Linked DNA regions of Homo sapiens. The protein of the gene in region 1 interacts with the protein of each later gene in a pairwise test. Each region holds a gene or a part of one and is shown on either strand. Other genes may lie near its edges. The genes, in order: ZNF558 and LZIC.

Region 1 (8,883 bases):
TCCCTTCCAGTTGTTTCACTTCAAGTTTCTTTACCTCCTTCTCTTCCTTACTAACCAAAATATGGAATGAAATATTTAGTAGCAATTATTTTATGCGTCATCTGGTTAGGTGGAAGCTACTAGTTGTTTTTACTCTAGCAGAATTAAGGTAGCCGGAAGTGACTATCAGAGTATAAAGTATCCTCAGATCTCAGGTACTCTGTGGGAAAGCAAGAACTTGTCTTGTCCATGAGGCCAGTGTGAAGGGTGAGGGTCTTTATCCCTGTCACAAGGCTTGAGGCAAAACTTTGCACTCTGCCTTCTGCCCTCCAGCCAGAGAAGTTTCTAGCCACCCCCATTCGAGGCAGAAAGGGTCCAGGCATTAAGTGGTTGTCGAGCCCTGGAATTTTATATTCCTAGACTTTGTGGGTTACAACATGGATACACACTGCCGACTTCATTCTGCAGCCAGCTTCTCACATCTAACAATATATCCCGATTGTAATTTAATATAACTAAATGTACATTGACATTGTTGTTTTAAGGCCCATGAATGTCATTTCATACGGCTACACCAGTACTTATTTTGCCATTGTTACTAATCTTCTGTCATATTAAATAGGAGGTAGATGATCAATCCTTTTTAACAAGGTTCAAACATTTCTCTGATTTAGATCACTGTAAAATTGCTGGGTTGATAAATATGCACATTCGTACAGCTTTGGGTATATGTTACCAAGTACCTGCTGAGAAACTGGTACTTATCAATGCTGCTAGCAGAGGGCGAGGTCATTCATTTCTTCATGTCTTGACAAACTGGCCATTTAAAATGTTTTGCATTACTTGAGAGGCACAAACATAATGCCATTATTTTAATTTATGCCTCTTTGCTAATTAGAGTATTGGGCAGTTGTATGTATTTGTAAAGGAGTGTGTGGTTCATAGCCTTTGTCTTTGATGATGTTTTTACTGGCTTGTTCATCTTTTGCTTATTTATCCAAAATATTCTTTATGTAATAATGATATGAGCCCACATGTCATAGATTTTTACAATTATTTATCCCCAGTTTGTTTTGCCATTTAATAATGTGATGGTGTGGAAAATTAAGATACACTTAAGCTGGATACGATGGGGTCATGCCTAAAATCCCAGCACTTTGGGCAGCCAAGGCAAAGGGATTGCTTGCGCTCAGGAGTTCGAGACTAGCCTCTGTGGTGTGGCGAGTCCCTGTCTCTATAAAAAATACAAAAACTAGCTGGGCGTGGTGGTGCACGCCTGCAGTCCCAGCTACTCGGGAAGCTGAGGAGGGAGAATGACTTGAGCCCAGGAGGTCGAGGCTGCAATGAGCCATGTTTGCACCACTGCACTCCAGCCTGGGTGACAAAGCAAGATCCTGTCTCCAAAAAAAAAGAAAAAAGAAGAAAGAAGGAGGAGGAGAGGGGGGGAGGAGGAGGAAAAGGAAGAGAAGAAGGAGGAGGAGGAAAGAAGAAAGAAGAAGGAGGAGGACAAGGAGGAGGAGGAAGGGGAGGAGTAAGGAAGAAGGAAGAAAGGAGGAGGAGGAAGAGGAAGAAGAGAAGAACTCACATTTTTGTAGTATTTTACTTTTTCCACTTTTCTTCTATTATTTTGAGGAAGAAGCACTCATATTTATGTAGTATTTTATTTTTCCACTTTTATTCTCTTATTATGCCTAACTGAAGAATTTATGTGTATAATTCTACATTTTTTAAATAAAAACTTTATTGAGCTACCATAATATTCAACCTTTTAAAGTGTACAGTTTTTACACTTTTGTGTAAAATGGTTTTTAGTACATTCACACAGTTGCGCAATCGTCACCACTATCTAATCTTATTTTCATCTAAAATGAAATCCATACCATTACCCACTTCCCCTCATTTCCCTTTTCCCCAACATTTGCCACTAATCTATTGTCTCTTTGGATTTTCTTATTCTGGAAATTTTATTTAAATTGAATTATACAAAATGTGGGTTTTTTATGAGTGGCTTCTTTTACTTACCGTAATGTTTTCAAGGTTCATCCATGGAATATGTATTCTGTTTAATGGATGAATAATAATCCGTTGTGTGGATATACCACATTTTATTTATCCATTCATCAGTTGACTGATATTTGGGACATACAAAATTTTGGGCTATTATGTATAATGCTGCTATGAACATTCATGTACAAGCTGTCATGTGAACACATGTTTTCATTTCTCTTGGGCATATACTGGAAATAAAATTGCTGGGTCACGTGGCAACTCTATGACTTTTTGAGGAACTGCCAAACTATTTTGCAAAGTGGGTGCACCATTTTACAATCCTGACAGCAATGTATAAGAATTCCAATTTCTCCTTGTCTTTGCCAATCTTTGTTATTGGCTATCTTTTTAATTTTAATTATCCCAATGGGTGTGAAGTAGTATTTTATTGAAGTTTTGATATTAACTTCCCTAATGATTAATGGGGCCGAGCATCTTTTCATGTATATATTTGCCATTTGTGTATCTTCTTTGTAGAAATGACGATTCGAACTCTTTGTTCATTTTTCAGGCTGGGTGCAGTGGCTCACACCTGTAATCCCAGCACTTAGGGAGGCCAAGGTGGGCAGATCACTTGAGGTCAGGAGTTCAAGACCAGCCTGGCCAACATGGCAAAACCCTCTCTCTGCTAAAAATACAAAAATTAGCCAGGCGTGGTGGTGAACGCCTGTGGTCCCAGCTACTTGGGAGGCTGAGGCAGGAGAATCGCTTGAATCCAGGAGGCAGAGGATGCAGTGAGCCAAAATGGTGCCACAGCACTCCAGCCTAGGTGACAGAAGGAGACTCCACCTCAAAAAGAAAAAAAAAAAAAAACTCTTTGTTCACTTTTAATTGGGTATCTTTTTATTGCTGAGTCGCAAGCCTTTATATATTTTGAATACAAGTCATGTATCAGATAAATCATTTGTAAATGTCTTCACCCAGTCCATGTTTGTCTTTTTTCTTGATGGTGTCCTTTGAAGCATCAATGTTTTTTAATGTTAAGTCCAATTTATATATTTTTTCTTTCGCCACCTGTTTTTGATGTCATATCTAAGAAACAATTGCCTAACCCAAGATCACAAAGTTTGACACCTATGTTTTCTTCCAAGAAGTTTATAGTTTTAGCTCTTACCTTTAGGTCTATGATCTATTTTGAGCTCACTTTTGTACATGGTGTGAAGTAGAGGTCCAATTTCATTCTCTGTTTTTTGTTTGTTTCTTGGTTGGTTGGTTTTTTTTTTGTTTTTTTTTGGTTTTGGTTTGTTTTTTTTTTTTGATGGAGTCTCGCTCTGTTCTCAGGCTGGAGTGCAGTGGGGTGATCTCGGCTCACTGCAATCTCCACCTCCTGGGTTCAAACGATTCTTCTGCCTCAGTCTCCCGAGTAGCTGGGACTATAGGCGCCCGCCACCACGCCCAGCTAATTTTGGTATTTTTAGTAGAGACGGGGTTTCACCATGTTAGCCAGGATGGTCTCGATATCTTGACCTCGTGATCTGCCTGCCTCAGCCTCCCAAAGTGCTGGGGTTACAGGCGTGAGCCACCACGCCCAGCCCAATTTCATTCTTTTGTATATTGGCATCTAGTTGTCCCAGCACAATTTGTTGAAGAGAACAGTCTTTCCACAGTGAACTTTCCTAGTATATTGAATTTTGAACTTGTTCATTTTTGCTTAAACTTCCTTCAGCCACCTGAAAATGGATATTTTTGGGAAGCAGAGATCTAACTATTTTTTTCTGAAAGGACGGGTGCATGAAACAATATCATTCATTGAAAGTATTTCTTCCTGGCTGATTTTAAATGTTACCACTCTCTTACATAAAATTTTTTCCCTTTGCACTTACCAGTATCTTTTTTTGTTTATGGTTTTTGGTTTTTGTTTTGTTTTGTTTTTTGAGATGGAGTCTTGCTCGTCACCCGGGCTGGAGTGCACCGGCTGCAATCTCGGCTCACTTCAACCTCCACCTCCCGAGTTCAAGCTATTCTCCTGCCTCAGCCTCCCAAGTACCTGGGATTACAAGGCATCCGCCACCACGCCCGGCTAATTTTGTATTTTTAGTAGAGACGGGGTTTCACCATGTTGGCAGGCTGGTCTCGAACTCCTGACCTCAGGTGATCTGCCTGCCTCGGCCTCCCAAAGTGTTGGGATTACAAGCGTAAGCCACCAGGTCCAACCAGCACTTAGTGGTATCTAACGCACCAACCCACCATGTATTCTATTTATCACATTCACTGTCCATTTCTCCTGCCCAACTCACAACTAAAATGCACGTTCTCTGAGGGCAAGGACGTTTACCTATTTTGTTCAGTCTATATCCATGGTGTATAAAACAGAGACTTGTTGGGGGGGAGGTAATAGCATTTATTCCATGAATATGACTACGGCATACACACATACACACACATACATGTCCACACTATATCTGGAAAGATAGAGGAGAAAATTATTTTTGCCTCTGAGCAAAAGAACTGAAAGACCGTGGTGGGAGAATATTTGACTGACTTTGTACCATTCTTAAGTTTTCCTATATGTGTATCTATGACCCAGTCCTCTCCTGCTCCCCTAAACTCTTAGTGTTAAATCACTATGTTCTGCCTTGGGAAAGCAAGTTATAGACAAATGTGCATACATAATCTGATCCTATTGGGTTGTATGAACATGGGGCAGTAACTGTATCAACAATCTAGGGATCCAAGGAAGGCCCTACCCCTGAATCTGATCTCCCACAATCCTGGCTCCTGGGCCTATCCCAACCCACCCACATCATACACCCTTTTATTCATACCCAGATCCCTGCCCCTGGAACTGGTCTCCACCCACTGCCCCCTCCCCAGGCCTGGTGCAGCCCACAGTCCCGCCCCCAGAACTGGTCTCCGCCCACAGTCAGCCCCGCCCCCAGGCTTGCTGCCACCCCATAGCTCCGCCCCTAGAACTGCTCTCTGCCAATCACCACTGCCCTCCAAGACCGGTACACCCACAGCCTAGTCCCCGCCCTCCGCCCGGCCCGGAGCTTATCTCCGCCCACAGCCAGCCCCAACCTCCAGGGCTGTCACAACCACAGCCTGGTTCCCGCTCAGCCCCGCCCCGGAAATGGAGGTCTCCACCCCTGTAACTGGTCTCTGCTCAGTCATCCCCGCTCTAGAAGCCTTATACCATCCGCCCCGAGAACTGGGCCCCACCCACAGCCCCGACCCTGGAACTGGTCTCTGCCCAATCAGCCTCGCCCTCCAGGCCTGGTACGGCCTCAGCCGGTTCCCCGCCTTCAGCCCCGCCCCGGAACTGATCTCCGCCCACAACCAGCCCCGCCCCCAGGCCTCGTGCGGCTCACAGCCTGGCCCCGCCCCCAGGGCCAACCTTACCCCCGCTACTGCCCCAGGCCAGGGCCCAACTTTGTGCCCACTAAGCAAACTAGAACACCTCTGCCCAAGGCTGGGGTTCGCGGCCGCCGCTCCCGCCCGCCGCGCCTGTCGCCTAAGCGCCGAACCCCCAACACGCTCGACTCTGCGAGGCTGCCCGCGCGAGCCGGAAGGGGACGTGCAGCGCACCTCTCCCCAGACCGGAAGCGGAAGCGCGGGGCGGTACCGTGGGAGGGGCCGCGCGTGGGGCAGCGGGGAGCGAGTCCCTCCGTCCCCGCGAGTCGGCGCTTTTGGCCCCGCGGGAGGGGCCGGGCTCGGTGAGCGACTGGCGGGGGCTCGGGTCCGAGTCCAGGGGGCGACGTGGGCCGCGGACACCGCCAGCCACGGGCCCTGCGTCCCTCCAGGGAGCCGTGTTTCGGTTCATGAGGCCTCGGGCTGTGAGCTTAGGTCAGCACGAAGCTGCTGCTTGCTCCTGGGTCGGGGCCCCGCGCCGCTGTTGCCTCCTCAGGGAACCCCAGTCGCCCTCACCCGGGGCGATTCCGCACCCCAGGGGACTTTTGGCTGTAGCTGGAGACGACTGTGGTTTTCACAAATTGTGGGGAGGGGAGGCTGCTACTGTCACCTAGAGGGTGGAGGCCGGGGAAGAGGGACGCTGCTTGCTCTTAAAGATCCTACGTTGTACAGGACAGTCCCCCACAACAAAGAATTATCAGTAGTGCCAGGTTGGGAAACCCTGCTCTAGGGCCTTAAAAAAAAAATCTCTGCAGTTCTGAATAAACTACATAAATTGTTAAAAATTCAGTTTAGTCACTTAATAGGGCCTCTAAGTGACAAGATATTTTTAAAGCCTGTGGAGTCACCATAGAATCTCTCTCCAGCGTAGTAAGTTGAGCAAGTCAAATGCACACAGCGTTAAGCTGCTTTCTCCCCTCTTACGGAGCAGATGGCCAGATGGGAATCAGGTAAAGCCAGTCATGGCCCACAGGCTGGGCCCTTATTACACATTTAATCATTGAGTACCCAAAAAAAGTGAATGGGATGGTGTTTCCGGCAGCCGTATCCAACAACTGTACAACCTATACAAAGCCTCGAAAGAAATCTTTGTGTCTTTTTTTTTTTTTCAGATGAGAAAAGCATCATTCAAGCTCAGATTCGTGTTGAAGCCTGCCACAAGGTCCACCTGTTGTTGTGGGTTTTTGGGTGACCAGGTGAGTACAGTGTGGAACCTACAACAAGGTTTCAGCAGGCTCTGCTGTGTAGAAGAACTCCTCGTGGGCTTTTCCTGTGCTGGGGTTGTAACCACATTGAAGTCACTAAGAGTGAAGGTATCTTAAGGAAAGTTCAAGGTAAAAAGACAGAGGTGTTTATGGTTACATGTGTGTAAATAAGTAAATACAGTTACATGCAAATAAGTATCCACAAAACAAACATACAAATAACGTAAAGATGTGTAACTGTAGCTAAAGACAGATTTTCTGGTATGCCGTAATGCTAAAAGTTTCTGAATTTTATATAAGTATAGAAAATATTTACATGTATATGTAGTGTTACAAGTCTTCCCACTAACAACTAGCAGGACTACTTAGCAACATTTTTCAGGCCTGTTTGATTTGACTTTTTTTTTTTTTCTTGAGACCAAGTCTCACTCTGTTGGCCAGGTTGGAGTGCAGTGGCGCGATCTTGGCTCATGTCAACCTCCACCTCCCAGACTCAAGCAAATCTCCTGCCTCAGTTTCCTGAGTAGCTGGGACTACAGGCAAGTGCCACCACGCCCAGCTAATTTTGTTTGTATTTTTAGTAGAGACAGGTTTTTGCCATGTTGGCCAGGCTGGTCTTTAACTCCTGACCTCAAGTGGTCCGCCCACCTCAGCCTCCCAAAGTGCTGGGATTACAGGCAAGAGCCACCGCACCCAGCTGTTGATTTGATTTCTAAAGGCATATTGGCCCTCCACCAAACTTCAAAATATAAGGGCATTTGTAAAAAGGATGATTTATTAGTAACAAATTTAAAATTAAATTGACCGGCGACCAGATGTGTTTTGAGTAATGGGATTTTTTTTTTCCTAATGAGATTTGAAAACATTTGGAAGAATATTAAGCAACAACTTATAGATTGAAGGGTAGGGAACTGGTTTCCAAAAAGATTGTCCTCTGCACCTTGCCTCCTGTATTAGTCCTTTTTCACACTGCTATAAAGAACTACCTGAGAGTTTTCACACTGCTATAAATAACTCCCTGAGACTGAGTGACTTACAAAGGAAAGAAGTTTAATTGACTCAGTTCTGCATGGCGGGGGAGGCCTCAGGAAACTTACGATCATGGCAGAAAGCAAAGGGAAAGCAAGGCACGTCTTACATGGCAGCAGGAGAGAGAGAGAAGACATAAACGCCAAACTTCTAAACCATCAGATCTTGTGGGAACTTACTATCAGGAGAACAGCAAGGGGGAAGTCCGCCCCCATGATTCAGTCACCTCCTACCAGGACCCTCCTCTGACACATAGGGATTATTACAACTCGAGATGAGATTTGGGTGGGGGGACACAGAGCCAACGATATCACCTCCTAATAGGAATTAACTTTGTTTCTTAAAACTTCTCTGAAATAACAGTATGGTGATTCATATTGCAGAGAATCATGTTAAGTAATCTAGTATTAAATTGTGGGGTTTCTACTAATTGTGTGTGTGTTCACCTTTTCCATTCTAGCTTTCCTACAGCATTCTTGAAGGAATGTTTACTTATCATGCAATAGATATTATTTGAGTGCACAGTTAATGGTGACCAACCATCCTCATTTTTTCAGGACCAAGGGGTTTGCTAGGGCACAGGGCATCCAGTGTTCAAACCGGGACAATCCTTGGCAAACCAGGTCGCCTCCATGAGTCAGGTCCTAGGTCAGATGCACAGGGACCCTGGAGGACCTGAAATGGCCCCTGTCCTACATAAAGTTTACCTTCTAACAGGGAAGATAAATTTTAAACCATGAATGACAGGAGTGATGTGGGAGCTTGGCACTAGTGAACTTGATCAGAGGGAACAGGGAAGCTTTCTTGGGAAGGATATTTAGCTTGAGAGCTTAAGTTGTTACAGAACCAAACTGGGGTCTGCTCACCTGGTGGTGCAGTGAAACCAGATGTCTATATTGAGGGTTGCTACGATAGATAGAAAGGCTTTTATTGCACAGCACTAAGCAAGGAGGACCAGACATTAAATGTTCAAATCCTGGCCTCCCCAGTGGCTTTTAGGCAAGGAATTTTTTTTTTTTTGAGATGGAGTCTCACTCTGTTACCCAGGCTGGAGTACTGTGTTGCAATCTCAGCTCACTGCAACCCCCGGCCTCCCGGGTTCAAGCAGTTCTGCCGCAGCCTCCTGAGTAGCTGGGATTACAGGCGCCTACCACCATGCCCGGTTAATTTTTGTATTTTCAGTAGAGACGGGGTTTCACCATGTTGGCCCGGCTGGTCTTAATCTCCTGACTTCGTGATCCACCCGCCTCAGCCTCCCAAAGTGCTGAGATGA
Region 2 (8,144 bases), on another chromosome or scaffold:
AGTTGACAGCCTCAGACCTCTCAACTTTGCTGAAGCTCTTCAACAGTATCGACTTTCCATTGTGAACTCTTTTTTTTTGAGACAGAGTCTCCTCTGTCGCCCAGGCTGGAATGCAGTGACAAGATCTTGGCTCACTACAACCTCTGCCTCCCAGGTTCAAGTGATTCTCCTGCCTCAGCCTCCTGAGTAGCTGGGATTACAGGCACACGCCACCACACCTGGATAACTTTTGTATCTTTAGTAGAGACAGGGTTTCACCATATTGGCCAGGCTGGTCTTGAACTCCTGACCTTGTGATCTGCCCACCTTGGCCTACCAAAGTGCTGGGATTACAGGCATGAGCCACCACTCATGCCTTTTTTTTTTTTTTTTTTTTTTTTTGAGATGGAGTCTTGCTCTGTTGCCCAGGCTGGAGTGCAGTTGTGCAATCTCGGCTCACTGCAAGCTCCGCCTCCCGGGTTCACGCCATTCTCCTGCCTCAGCCTCCTGAGTAGCTGGGACTACAGGCGCCCGCCACCACGCCCAGCTAATTTTTTGTATTTTCAGTAGAGACAAGGTTTCACCATGTTAGCCAGGATGGTCTCGATCTTATGATCTGCCCGCCTCCGCCTCCCAAAGTGCTGGGATTACAGGTGTGAGCCACGGCGCCCTGCCGACAGTTTTAATTTACATACTAATGCTGGAAAACATTTTGGAAGGCAAAGAAGAACATTCACTGGTCTTAGCAATAAATAGAATAAAAAAGAAAAACGTGGACAGAAAGGTGGTTGAAAGGCTCTAGGCAAAATGGTCTGGGTTTATTTTTTTCTATAGTAATTTCAGATTATCCATCATTCACTGTAATAAGATACCATTTCAGTGGTGGAGTTGCATAGTCTTTTATTTTTCTAAAGATGACCATTCCATGTTTAATGTCTTCAGAGAAGATCTAAAAATCAAAGTTAACAACCCATTTGTCCCAACTCTAACTCTTCCTGGGAACAATTCCTCATTCTGTTACTTGATTTCTTCCTTTACCACCCACATAAAATATGTCTTACTGCTCACAAGATCAAAAGAAAACAGAACAAAACATTGAAACATCAGAATTGTTTAAAACACTAGATTTCATTCAATGGTCCGATTGGACACTTGCTCATTGGAACTTATTTCTGCTTCAGCTCTAGTTCTTTGAGAAACACAAGAATTCCTTTCACCAAAATATTAGCCTGACACAAGAATGTTGAAAGGTTAGCTGCCTTAGCTTTATTGCTGCCTATAATCTCCAAAGATATCTGAACACCTAGAAGATTAAATGTAGCAAGAAGTGGAAGAGAAACACAGTTTATAAGTCATTTAATAACTATAATTGCATAGAATTTACTCACTTTTCAAATACTTATTCTGAATGAATACCAAATTTGTGAAACAAAATATATCCTATGGTGCTTAGAATGGTTGTTAAATGGTGAGTTAGTTTTCCAAGTAAAAACTTTACGTGCATTAACAGAGGGGAATGCATAATAATCCTATGAGGTAGGCCCTATTATCCTCATTGAATAGAAGAGAAAAGGAGGCTCAAAAAAATTAAGTAACCCACAAAAAGTCACACAGCTGTGACTGTCAGTGTCCTGCTGGGCACTGCAAACTAGGCCACTTTTAAAGTAAGATCATTTTAAATTGAGTACTCTTACTTACAAAATGAACACATTAATGTGATAATTGACAAAATATTTCAGATGCTGGACTTATAGAAAGTTTAAGGAAAACCAAGATTAAGGATTCCAGATTCAGGTAACTCTCTTTATCTTTTTTTTAGACAGGGGTCTCACTTTGTCAGCCAGTACAGTGGCGTGATCTCAGTTCACTGCAACCTCTGCTTCCCAGGTTCAGGTGATCCTCTGACCTCAGCTTCCTGAGTAGCTGGGACCACAAGTGCATGCCATCACGCCTGGCTAATTTTTTTTTTTTTTTTAGAGACAGGGTTTCACCATGTTGGCCAGGCTGGTCTCAAATCCTGAGTTCAGGCGATCCGCCCACCTCTGCCTCCCAGAGTTCTGAGATTACATGCGTGAGCCACTGTGCCAGGCATTAGGTCCCTTTCAAATTCAAGATATTCCTAATTTTTCTGGTCTACTATTGCAGGGTAAGGGAAGAATCTTCTTCCTCTTTTTTTTTTTTTTTTTTTTTTTGAGACCGTGTCTCAGTCTGTCGCCCAGGCTGGAGTGCAGTGGCGCCATCTCGGCTCACCGAAACCTCTGCCTCCCAGGTTCAAGTGATTCTCCTGCCTCAGTCTCCCAAGTAGCTGAGACTACAGGCACCTGCCACTATGCCTGGCTAATTTTTGTAGAGATGGAGTTTCACTGTGTTGGCCAGGCTGGTCTTGAGCTCCTGATCTTGTGATCCGCCCGCCTTGGCCTCCTGAAGTGCTGGGATTACAGGTGTGAGCCACTGTGCCCGACTGGTGGGAAGAATCTTCTATGGCTTAAAAAACAAACGTAGGCTGGGTGTGGTGGCTCAGGCCGGGTATGGTGGCTCATGCCTGTAATCATCCCAGCACTCTGGGAGGTTGAGGCGGGTGGATCACCTAAGGTCAGGAGTTCGAGACCAGCCTGACCAACATGGAGAAACCCCATCTCTACTAAAAACACAAAATTAGCCAGGTGTGGTGGCGCATGCCTTAATCCCAGCTACTCGGGAGGCTGAGGCAGGAGAATCGCTTGAACCTGGGAGGCAGAAGTTGTGGTGAGCCGAGATCACGCCATTGCACTCCAGCCTGGGCAACAGAGTGAAACTCCATCTCAAAAAACAACGACAACAACAACAACACAACAACAAACGCAGCAATTCCATTCCTAGGTGTACACCCAAAAAAATTGAAAACAGGTATTCAAACAAATATTTGTACACAAATGTTCACTGAAGCATTATTCACAATAGCCAAAAGAAGGAAACAACCCAAATCATCAACAGATACCGGATAAACAAAATATGATATCCATACAATGGAATATTATTTAGCCATAAAAAGGAATAAAGTACTGATACATGCTATAATGTTGGTTAAACTTGAAAATATGATGATGTCCCGGTGTGGTAGCTCACACCTATAATCCCAGCACTTTGGGAGGCCGAGGCAGTTGGATCACCTGAGGTCAGCTCAGGACCAGCTGGGCCAACATGGTGAAACCCTGTCTCTATACTAAAGGTACAAAAATTAGCTGGGCGTGGTGGTACACACTAGTAATCCCAGCTACTTGGGAAGCTGAGGCAGGAGAATCTCTTGAACCTGGGAGGCGGAGGTTGAGATTGCGCCATTGCACTCCAGCCTGGGCAATAAGAGTAAAACTCTGTCTCAAAAAAAAAAAAAAAAAGAAAAGAAAATATTATGCTAAGTGAAAGAAGCCAGATACATAAAAAGGTCACATATCATATGATTCCATTTATATGAAATATCCAGAATAGGTAAATCCACAGAGACAGGGTGCAGATTAGTGGCTATTGTTAGCAGTCGGAGGAGAAGGGAATGGGGACTAACTGCTTAATAGGTATAGGGCCTCCTTTGGGGGTGATAAGAATGTTCTGCAACTAGAGAGTAGTGATGGTTGCACACCACTGTAAATGTTCTGCCAACGAATGGTACACTTTAAAATGGTGAATTTTATGATATATGAATTTCACCTCTTTTAAGTTCCAAATAAGGCATCAGTGTAGCGGAGGTCCTCTAATCTGTCTGGTTGGCAAAGCACCTAGTAGTTTACAGTACAGAAGAAGCTTTAAAAATGCTTTTAATTTGTATAAAGTGCAAAGAAAAAGAATATTGAGAAGCACATGAAAGAATATAAAATGGCTAGAGCCTAAAAAATAAGCTAATATACACGCATAGGGACACATCTGCATATTTGAGCATACAGAGACATGTAAATACTCAGGAGAGAAATTTGCTTTTCCTCATAACTTATTTTGTGTTTCTCCAAAACCTGAAGAGTAGATAACAGCTGACAGTTACCCCCCTCTGAGTGTGACAAGAGGTCACGCACAGGGAGGGCCTCTAGCTGCCATTTCCTGTTGCTTCCCTGGTCAAACAACGCAGGCGGCTAAGTCACTTTAGGAAACGCTCAACAGGGCTCCCATTGTTCCAACCTCAAAATTCCGAGATACAACGGGCCCCATTAATACAGACAGCTTACAGGCTGGGGGATGGTCCCTTAGTGTGCAGTCCACTTTTTATTGGGACACTGAATTTTCAAAAACACTGACTTGCACAAATAGTGTTAATTATTTTTTTTAAATGGTACAGAAATAAAATTCAAAAGATACTAAACTGGGAGTCAGGACACCTGAGTCTTACCCTCAGCTCTCTGATGCGACTTTAAGCAAAGTCGCTTGCTCTTTCTGGACCTCAGTTTCCTTGTTTGTAAAAACAGAAATGATTTCTAAGATCACTCAGAATTGTAAAATTCTATGAACACTTATGAAGTCTATTGAGCTTGCGTCACTGTTCACTCCAATGAGTGGGGATAAGTTGTAAGCAGAAAAATATCATTACTTCACATCTTTTCGTTCACTATCAACACTTAAAAACAAACAGCCTTAATAAAAATCAAGTCCACTTTGTTTTCTCTCTTAAACAGACAAATCATAACGAACAGAGTCCAGTGAGTCCCTCTGTCGCAACAAGTTCAGGATCACTCAAGCAGGTAACCGCACACAACGCACAATGATGAAGAGCATAAACACAAGCCATAAGTATATTTTTATGTCGCTTTTTCTTAGGTTATTGATGCATTTCCAGAATCTCTTCATTTCTTTGCAATAACTGAAAACCCCAGAAGAAAGACACCATTTACATTAAGAATGTGATCAATGTTACAAGCTTCTGCACCATGTCATTTTTTTGTTTTTTCAACCTCAAAACTTGCCAGAGCAAGAATTTTGTCTCCAGAGCCTAAGAAAAAAGACACATAATAAACAAAAAGATTATTTCAAGTGCAGTTGCAATTCCTGGTAAAGTGGGAAAAAATCTATCATATAGATATTAAAACAGAAAATATAATTAGCCTCCATTATCAGTGTATTAACCCCTACACGTTCCCATTGCCATCCCAATTTCCTTCCCTCTGCACAAACAATCCAGCTACAAAGGGGGACTTATTAGTTATAAATCCTTATTCTAGCTATGAAATATAATATGTAAAATTTAATTTATTTATTTATTTATTTTTTTGAGATGGAGTTTCGCTCTTGTCGCCCAGGCTGGAGTGCAGTGGTGCGATCTCGGCTCACTGCAACTTCCACCTCCTGGGTTCAAGCAATTATCCTTGCCTCAGCCTCCCTAGTAGCTGGGATTACAGGCACGTGCCACCATGCCCAGCCAATTTTTGTGTTTTTGGTAGAGAGGGTTTCACCCTGTTGGCCGGGCTGGTCTCGAACTCCTGACCTCAGGTGATCCACCCACTTCAGCCTCCCAAAGTGCTGGGATTACAGGCTTGAGCCACCGCACCTGGCCATAAAATTTATTTTAAAACATTTCTGTGAAAAAAAAAAATAAAGAAAGAAGAAATATTTTTTGCGGGGAGACAGGTCTTGCTCTGTCACCCAGGCTGGAGTACAATGGCATGATCTTGGCTCACTGCAGCCTCAAATATCTGGGTTCAAGTGATCCTCCTGCCTCAGCTTCTCAAGTAGCTAGAACTGTAAGTGCATGCCACCACACCTAGCTAATTTTTTTTCTTTTTAATTTTGTTTATTTATTCATTTATTTATTTATTTGAGATGAGTCTCGCTCTGTCGCCCAGGCTGGTGTGCAGTGGCACAATCTCGGCTCACTGCAAGCTCCGCCTCCTGGGTTCACACCATTCTCCTGCCTCAGCCTCCCAAGTAGCTGGGACTACAGGTGCCCACCACCACACCCAGCTAATTTTTTGTGTTTTTCGTAGAGACAGGGTTTCACTGTATTAGCCAGGATGGTCTCGATCTCCTGACCTCGTGATCTGCCCGCCTCGGCCTCACAAAGTGCTGGGATTACAGGTGTGAGCCACCGCACCCGGCCTTGGCCTCCCGCTTTTTAATTTTGAAGACAAAGGGTCTCACCATGTTGCCCAGGCTGGTCTAGAACTCCTGGCCTCAAGCATATAATTTTAGTTTTCTGTTATAGTTACGTCTACCTGACAAGTATTTTAAAAACATTAGGCTGCATTAATTTATTTTTAATATTGGGGAATAAAACCAATACAATGGATTTATAAAGAAAACAATTCTGGTTTCACTCTTAAACTCAAGGAAAGGTTATTATGTTATTTCAACCACACTCTCCATCAGTTTGTATGTAATATATGACAGTAGTATACGACCAGCTTTCAGAAATATGAGGGCACTCACCAAGGTCTGTAGAGACTTTCTCAAACTGGCTGAGTATAGCACCTGCATTTGCTGACAAGAAGGCCTCATCATCTGCAGTCAGCTAAACAAAATGAAACAAAGTCCAGTTGAGTGGGTAAATGTTACAGGTGGTTCTAGAAACCAGGTAAGAATGTCTTAGGAGGCTGGGCACCGTGGCTCACGCCTGTAATCCCTGCACTTTGGGAGGCGTGGGGGGGGGGGGGGGGTGGATCACATGAGGTCAGCAGTTTGAGACCAGCCTGGCCAACATGATGAAACCCCATTTCTATTAAAAATACAAAAAATCAGCTGGGCGTGGTGGTGCACGCCTGTAATCCCAGCTACTCAGGAGGATGAGGCAGTAGAATTGCTTGAACCTGGGAGGCAGAGGTTGCAGTGGGCTGAGATCGACCCACTGCACTCCAGCCTGGACAGCAAGGGCAAAACTCCGTCTCAAAAAAAAAAAAAAAAGGTAGAGGGGAGGGCCGGGTGCGGTGGCTCACACCTGCAATCCCAGCTCTTTGGGAGGCCGATGTAATCCCAACACTTTGGGAGGCTGTGGCGGGCGGATCACCTGAGGTCAGGAGTTCAAGACCAGCCTGGCCAACATGGTGAAACCCCATCTCTACTAAAAATACAAAAATTAGCCAGGCGTAGTGGTGGGCACCTGTAATCCCAGCTACTCAGGAGGCTGAGGCAGGAGAATTGCTTGAACCCAGGAGGGGGAGGTTGCAGTGAGCTGAGATCGCACCATTGCACTCCAGCCTGGGCAACAAGAGCGGAACTCCGTCTCAGAAAAAAAAAAAAAAAAAAAAGAATGTCTTAGTACCACAAACTAGACCACAGATCAAGATGTTCTGTACCAAATAATTCATACTTTTTCTTTGTAACTAATATATTAAATACTGGTACCTTCTCTCCAAGTTTCCTAAGAGCTGTTAGTATCTCCACTTTCTGTTGAGTGTACAGGTCTCTTTCCAGCTTTCCTACCATCAGATCTCTATCCATCTAAAACGTATGAATGCAAGGCATATGTTACTTAAGTGAAAAACATTCCATATACAAAATATAGCTTTTCAGGCCAGGCGCAGTGGCTCACGCCTATAATCTCAACACTTTGGGCGGATCACGAGGCGGGCGGATCACGAGGTCAGGAGACCAAGACCATCCTGGCTAACACGGTGAAACCCCGTCTCTACTAAAAATACAAAAAAAGTAGCCAGGCATGGTGGCAGGCGCCTGTAGTCCCAGCTACTCAGGAGGCTGAGGCCGGAGAATGGTGTGAACCCGGGAGGTGGAGCTTGCAGTGAGCCGAGATAGCGCCACTGCACTCCAGCCTGGGTGACAGAGCAAGACTCCACCACAAAAAAAAAAAAAAAAAAAAAAAAAAAAAATATATATATATATATATACACATACATATAGCTTTTCAGACGTACTTCTTAAAAAAAAATCCTCTAGCTGATTAATATTATAAAGAACTACAGATATAATCCAAGGCAAATATGATAGAAATGTTAAATGCAGTTCTAGTAAATCATCTAGTAAAATATCACCTCTTCCACCAGAAACACTAATAGCATGTACCACACATTGGGAATATTCAAAGTACTTTTACACATATTACTTCATTTAATCCTCATAAGAACCATAAGAGGTAAGGACTATCTTTGTCATGTTTTTACAGACAGAGAAACCTAGGCACAAAGGGGATGAATAAAATAAGTTGTCCAGGCCAGGTACAGTGGCTCATGCCTGTAATCCCACCACTTTGGAAGGCTGAG

The links.
Region 2: the proteins of ZNF558 (region 1) and LZIC interact in binary tests that used the Homo sapiens proteins (3 or more experiments, as listed by UniProt).

The regions. Positions count from the first base shown.
Region 1 is NC_000019.10:8,829,007-8,837,889, reverse strand, and holds the start of ZNF558 (zinc finger protein 558), read left to right. Parts: upstream 1-5,585; 5' UTR 5,586-5,681; exon of another isoform or gene 5,682-5,811; intron 5,812-6,488; 5' UTR 6,489-6,572; intron 6,573-6,998; exon of another isoform or gene 6,999-7,120; intron 7,121-8,883. UniProt on the Homo sapiens protein: May be involved in transcriptional regulation.
Region 2 is NC_000001.11:9,925,531-9,933,674, forward strand, and holds the end of LZIC (protein LZIC), read right to left. Parts: intron 7,369-8,144; coding exon 7,273-7,368; intron 6,443-7,272; coding exon 6,361-6,442; intron 4,928-6,360; coding exon 4,869-4,927; coding exon of another isoform or gene 4,826-4,868; 3' UTR 4,799-4,825; coding exon of another isoform or gene 4,782-4,798; 3' UTR 763-4,781; downstream 1-762.